2 linked regions of the Homo sapiens genome follow. Each later gene encodes a partner of the first gene's protein in a complex. Each region holds a gene or a part of one and is shown on either strand. Other genes may lie near its edges.

Region 1 (4,094 bases):
TGGCTGGTGAAGGAACCAACCTGTAAAGTGTCACATCTACCCATGGAAGCACAGCTGCCCACAGTTCAGACATTGGCCCCTCAGAGTTTGCTCTTCTTCAGAATCCTTCTTGCTTCTGCCCATTTCTTTCTCCTTCCTTTTTAAATTTTTTTTTAAAGCATCCAGAGATGCTCAGTGTATACTCTGTTGCTTAATTCTATAATTTCCAGAGAAAAGCTGTAGCTTGACTCAAACAGTGGGACCCTGAAAATTTGTTCTTTTTTAAAATTTTTTCTTGAGATGGAACCTTGCTCTGTTACCCAGGCTGGAGTACAGTGGTGTGATCTTGGCACACTGCAGCCTCCACCTCCCAGGTTCAAGCGATTCTCCTGCCTCACTCTCCTGAGTAGCTGGGACTATAGGTGTGCGCCACCATGCCCGGCTAAGTGTTTGTATTTCTAGTAGAGATGGGGTTTTGCCATATTGCCCAGCTGATCTCGAACTCCTGGCCTCAAGTGATCCACCTGCCTCAGCCTCCCAAAGTGCTGGGATTACAGGCGGAAGCCACCATACCCGGCCAAAGATTTGTTCTTGAAGTGTGACTAGGTGACTGCCTATTCACCTGAGTTATGGAGCCATGTTCCAAATCTTGTGCCTTCCTTCAGGTGTGTTTGGAAAGCACAAATGTGTACCTCAGTAGTTTCTTCTCTTGGTGGCAACTTGGAATGGGTGGGATACTCCCCGCCCCAATTCCCTCCCCTGCCCCTGCCCCGGGAGGTATCTTTGGCCATCACCGAGGACACAGGAAGGCACTCTGGGAGATGCCTGTCTCATGATGGGCTTCCTTATTAACTGTGCCTGTGTCTCCTTCGCGAGGCTCATACCTTCTTTGGTTTTCATGAGAAACCAAAAATATTGCATTCACTGTTTTTTTTCTCAATCGGAGTGTGATCAACTGCTTACGGGCTCTCAGGCTGACTCCCTGAGCATGGGCATGGCAGCACCTGGCAGCATCCCTGTGGTACGAGCCCAGCCTGTGGTGCTGGGGATGAAGGAGAAACTGAGAACTCTGTGTTGTCTTTCTCAGACAAGCCTTCATGTATTGTATTTTCTTTAAAGCCTGTTCTTTAGGGTCCAGGTCAAAATATGTACCAATTTCCTGGCAATAGGTCCCTCTTTAAAACAGTGAATTTTTTTTGGTATTTTATTGTGAAAAATTTCAAACGTACAAAAAAGACAAAAGAATTTATACTGTGAGCACCTATAGCTGGTACCTGGATTCTACAATTGGATTTTGCTCTGTTTCCATGAATCTGTATTGTTATTTTGTTGGATTACAAAGTAATTTTCAAACATCATACACATAAGCACATATATCATTAAGTAGAGTTTAATATTTGTTATGGTTCCTGGTTTTTTTTTTTTTTTTTGAGGTAAAATTTACATTCTGTGAAAGGCACAAATCCAAGCGTCCTATCTGATGAGTTTTAACAAATACACCCAGTTGTGTCACTCAAGCCGTTATCTAGATGTAGATTGTTCCCAGCACCTGAATTCCCTCGTGCCCTACCCAATGGGTCCCTTCTCACATCTTCCAGCTCCACCAGAGGCAGTCACTTTTCTTTTTTTTAAAATGATGTTTGAAAATTACTTTGTAATCCATCAAAATAACAACAGGTTTCCAGGACAGTTTAGCCTGTTCTAGAATTTAACATAAATACTTGTATACTCCTCCTGTGTAAAGCCCTTTGGCTTGGTGTGTTTTTGATATTCATCGATGTTGCTCCGTGTATCAGGAGTTTGCTCCTTTTTAACAGTGGACTTTTGAGCGATCATTGGAAGTACCCAGAGCATTGACATAGGAGTCCTCCTTGCCAAATGGAAAGACTGCCATTGACCTTACCAGCCAACCAAAGAGGGGCAGGACATTTGGAAAATCAAGTGGATTCTCCAGCTGGGCTGTTAGAAAAGAACTCACTTCTGTGGAGAATCACTGGATTTTATAGGCTTAGCTCTAGAAAGCATCATTTTGTCATCTTCTGAAATGACAATAATTATCCAATTACATCTCTCCTTTCTGTCATTTTACACCCACAGTTGAAGATTCCTGTCTCTGGATCCAAATCAGAGGGCCTTCTCTACGTCCACTCATCCAGAGGTGGCCCCTTTCAGAGGTATCCTGGGAAGGTGACGGCAGTGGGGGAGCGGGAGGAAGACTTCCTGATGAAAGCAACCCCAACTCCGTTTTCATTTGTTGTTAAATTACTGTGGGCATAGGAAGAATTATTTTTCAAGCTTGAAGCTGAAAGCTTCGTGGCCTGGGCAGCAAGCCAGTACTGCGGCTCTTAGCTGAGTCCAGTTTATCCATACAGTCTACTGAATTGCCCTCTCCTTATGCCGTTGAATTTGTAAAACTTTCCAGTTATAGTGATCTGGGTCTATCATAATTTGATGCTATGTTACAGCTTCTCACTTGACTGCCTCAATTGTTATAAATGAATAAAGGGCATGGACTCTTGTTCCAGAATTTATTCATCACATTCTTTGCATAAGCTCTCCACCCCTTAATTGGCTTTGCTTGTCTGGTTGCCAATAGCTACATCCACTCACTTCCCCCACGGGAAGCCTCTCTCATAGATGTTTGCTGTTTAGCCAGGCTGTATTTTAATTCCCAAGGACAAAAGGAGCAGGAGGCCCCACCTAGCTCACCCTGGGCTCACTGACCTCTGAGCCTGGGATTAGTGTACAAGCTGGCTGGATTCCATGCCAGGAACTGAAGGTCACTGTGAATTAGGAAATGAGAAATAAACTGCTCCTTCTTCCTGATGTCCCTTCCATTCGCCTGTCAGTCATTGTTAAGCCTGCCTTGAAGTCGAAGCTGGTTAAATAATGAGAGCCCATGGTAGAATGTTAAAAATTGTGTTGACACAGCACTCGCACAAAATAATGTTTAAAAAAATTTAAGGCATTATTCAAAACAACTGCTTTCCGCGCCCCTTTTTTTGACTACGGCTGTTGCCTCAGCCTTCATAGATTAGAGATACTATACTTTTGGTTTCTCTCAGGTGGCACCTTGACGAGGTCTTTTTAGAGCTCAAGGATGGTCAGCAGATTCCTGTGTTCAAGCTCAGTGGGGAAAACGGTGATGAAGTGAAAAAGGAGTAGAGACGACCCAGAAGACCCAGCTTGCTTCTAGTCCATCCTTCCCTCATCTCTACCATATGGCCACTGGGGTGGTGGCCCATCTCAGTGACAGACACTCCTGCAACCCAGTTTTCCAGCCACCAGTGGGATGATGGTATGTGCCAGCACATGGTAATTTTGGTGTAATTCTAACTTGGGCACAACAAATGCTATTTGTCATTTTTAAACTGAATCCGAAAGAAACTCCTATTATAAATTTAAGATAATGTAATGTATTTGAAAGTGCTTTGTATAAAAAAGCACATGATAAAAGGAATCAGAATTAATAAAATGTTTGTTGATCTTTGCTAGTTCTCATTTCTTTCCTTTCTCTTCCTCTTCCTTTCCCCTGGAATTTTCAGTCCTCATTACAAAGCCTGAAGCTTAGTAGCACTGAAGGGATTTTTTCTAAATTATTGACCTGAGAATGATGAGGAAGACCACTGGTTTTTCACTCTACCTTGAATTCATGTTGTTAAGTAGCTTGTGGACATTCTCTATCACTTTGGAATATTTTGTTTGCTTTGCTTTTATTTATTTCTATTTCAGACACCAACCATCTGCCCAGTTGAAGATTTGCAAAATAATTGTTTTTATTCCAAACATTTTGAAAGCTTAGAAAATTTATATGTGTACATATACATATAAAGTTAACTTAGGAAAGTTAGTTTGAAGCTAACAGCATCTGGCTGGGTGTGGTGGCCCATGCCTGTAATCCCAGCAATTTGGGAGGCCAAGGCAGGCGGATCACCTGAGGTCAGGAGTTTGAGACCAGCCTGGCCAACATGGTGAAACCTCGTCTCTACTGAAAATACAAAAAATTAGCCAGGCGTGGTGGCGGGCGCCTGTAATCCCAGCTACCTGGGAGGCTGAGGTGGGAGAATTGCTTGAATCCAGGAGGCAGAGGCTGCAGTGAGCCAAGATTTCATCAC
Region 2 (3,049 bases), on another chromosome or scaffold:
AGCCTGACTGCCTTCTCGGAATGAGGAGAGAGGAAAACAGCAACAGTATCAGTATGTTAGCCTTCTACACTAAATCTCAAGCAAGCCAACCTTTCAGACCTTCAGTTTGCTCATATGTATAGAAATAATCATTATACTACCAATTTCTCAAGTTAGTGTGTAAATCAGAAAGCCAATGTCTGTATTGTAGGATGTTTAGCAAGAAAATAAAAAATAATAACAAAAAGCCAATGTCTAACAGATAATAAGAGCTCAGTAAATGTTGATTGAATTACTAACAAAGTATGTGAAAGCAGACGACACAGTACCTGGCACACTACTAAACTGTAAATGTTTTCAAATCTGAATCTGTAGAATTCTGTAAGGTTTTATGTAATATGAATATCATTAGCTATTATGGCTCTGGAATTTTTTTTTCCAGGTTTTCAAGATGGCAGCATCTATGCATGGTCAGCCCAGTCCTTCTCTAGAAGATGCAAAACTCAGAAGACCAATGGTCATAGAAATCATAGAAAAAAATTTTGACTATCTTAGAAAAGAAATGTAAGAGAAATGCCCAGGCTGAAAATCAGTCATTTTATTTGCAAGTCTTTTGTATTGCCATTGTTTCTAAGATCCTATTCTTTCTTACCTTTTCTGTTATCTAAGATCCTATTCTTTGAGTTGGCTATGAAGAACACATCTTTAAAAAAAAGAATGGGGGAAACAAGAACAGATGAAAATGGTGGTTTGTTGGAATATTTCGGATTGTGGATAATTTCTTTTGTTTCTTAAAAAGTATCCAAAAGTATTGCTAAAACTTTTGTGCAGTAAATGTATTTTAATTAAAAGTAATTAGGAGAAAACCATTGAGGGGGGTACTTATATTTAATTGGTGAGTAATTATAATCAGTTTAGGATTGATTATCTCAGCCACAGTACTTAGTACAGCAAAAGGGAATACAGATTTCATGGTATAAATATAGTCTCACATTAACATATTGACTTTTTTTTTTGAGATAAGAGTCTCACTCTGTCACCCAGGCTGGAGTGCAGTGGCACAATCTCGGCTCACTGCAATCTCCAGCTCCCAGGTTCAAGTGATTCTCCTGCCTCAGCCTCCCAAGTAGCTGGGATTACAGGCGTGTACCACCACAACCAGCTAATTTTTGTATTTTTAGTAGAGATGGTTTAACCATGTTGGCCAGACTGGCCATTTTGACTTTTAAATGAACAAAGTTCAAGAAAAAAATCAAAGGACAGTTGATGTTATTTCCTGGATTTACATATGGGTCTTAATAAGAAAACTAAATCAGATTTTTTTGGATGAAGTTTTATAAATCTTGGACAAATTATTTTATTTTATTTTATTTTATTTCATTTTCTGTTTTATGGCTTTATTGAAGTATAATTTATATATCTTGACATTCATCCATTTAAAGTGTACAGTTATATGAGTTTTAGCAAATTTATACAGTTATGTAACCATCACCACAATTAAAATTTGGAATACTTCCAACATCCCCAAAAAGTTCCCTCATTCCCTTTTATTTTTTTTTATTTTATTATTATTATACTTTAAGTTTTAGGGTACATGTGCACAATGTGCAGGTTAGTTACATATGTATACATGTGCCATGCTGGTGTGCTGCACCCATTAACTCATCATTTAGCATTAGGTAGATCTCCTAAAGCTATCCCTCCCCTCTCCTCCCACCCCACAACAGTCCCCAGAGTGTGATGTTCCCCTTCCTGTGTCCATGTGTTCTCATTGTTCATTTCCCACCTATGAGTGAGAATATGCGGTGTTTGGTTTTTTGTTCTTGCAATAGTTTACTGAGAATGATGATTTCCAACTTCATCCATGTCCCTACAAAGGACATGAACTCATCATTTTTTATGGCTGCATAGTATTCCATGGTGTATATGTGCCACATTTTCTTAATCCAGTCTATCATTGCTGGACATTTGGGTTGGTTCCAAGTCTTTGCTATTGTGAATAGTGCCACAATAAACATACGTGTGCATGTGTCTTTATAGCAGCATGATTTATAGTCCTTTGGGTATATACCCAGTAATGGGATGGCTGGGTCAAATGGTATTTCTAGTTCTAGATCCCTGAGGAATCGTGACACTGACTTCCACAATGGTTGAACTAGTTTACAGTCCCACCAACAGTGTAAAAGTGTTCCTATTTCTCCACATCCTCTCCAGCACCTGTTGTTTCCTGACTTTTTAATGATTGCCATTCTAATTCATGTGAGATGGTATCTCATTGTGGTTTTGATTTGCATTTCTCTGATGGCCAGTGATGGTGAGCATTTTTTCATGTGTTTTTTGGCTGCATAAATGTCTTCTTTTGAGAAGTGTCTGTTCAGGACAAATTATTTTAAATGTATCTGGGACTAATGAAGAAATAGAAGGCCTAACCAAATGTAAACAGCTTTTTTTTAGATGAACTTAAGCAAAGTAAATCTTTTAGTTGCAGGAAAGGTATTCTTGGATTTGGGTAGCTCATAAAATTTGGCTGCATTGGAACATATTTATATTTATTTGTGGCCAAAATTATTTAAAAGAGCTCTATTTTAGAATTACTGTAAATATTCTTAGAAAGAGAATCATGTCCTCTCATTAGAATACAAGTTCTATGAGGGGTGGGAAATTTCTTTTTTTCTTTTGCTTTGTTTACTGTCCTATCTTAAGCACTTAGAAAATACTTTTCACATATAGTAAGTGCTCAAGAAATATTTGATATTGATATGCAATAACAACTTTTCAGGAGAGGCTGTATCCATTAAGTTCAATGGTATAGTGAACTGAATTTTTCTTTTTTTCTATTAGGACACAAAATATATATCAAATGGCGACATTTGGAACAACAGCTGGTTTCTCTGGAATATTCTCAAACTTCCTGTTCAGACGCTGCTTCAAGGTTAAACATGATGCTTTGAAGACATATGCATCATTGGCTACACTTCCATTTTTGTCTACTGTTGTTACTGACAAGCTTTTTGTAATTGATGCTTTGTATTCAGGTGAATTTAAATTCACTAATGTATAACGTAGTTAT

The links.
Region 2: COA1 (region 1) and TMEM126B share a complex: the UniProt entries of both Homo sapiens proteins name them as parts of the mitochondrial complex.

The regions. Positions count from the first base shown.
Region 1 is NC_000007.14:43,638,632-43,642,725, reverse strand, and holds the end of COA1 (cytochrome c oxidase assembly factor 1 homolog), read left to right. Parts: intron 1-2,076; coding exon 2,077-2,153; intron 2,154-3,044; coding exon 3,045-3,144; 3' UTR 3,145-3,469; downstream 3,470-4,094. UniProt on the Homo sapiens protein: Component of the MITRAC (mitochondrial translation regulation assembly intermediate of cytochrome c oxidase complex) complex, that regulates cytochrome c oxidase assembly.
Region 2 is NC_000011.10:85,631,266-85,634,314, forward strand, and holds part of TMEM126B (complex I assembly factor TMEM126B, mitochondrial), read left to right. Parts: exon of another isoform or gene 1-51; intron 52-421; coding exon 422-543; intron 544-2,820; coding exon 2,821-3,014; coding exon of another isoform or gene 3,015-3,040; exon of another isoform or gene 3,041-3,049. UniProt on the Homo sapiens protein: As part of the MCIA complex, involved in the assembly of the mitochondrial complex I. Participates in constructing the membrane arm of complex I.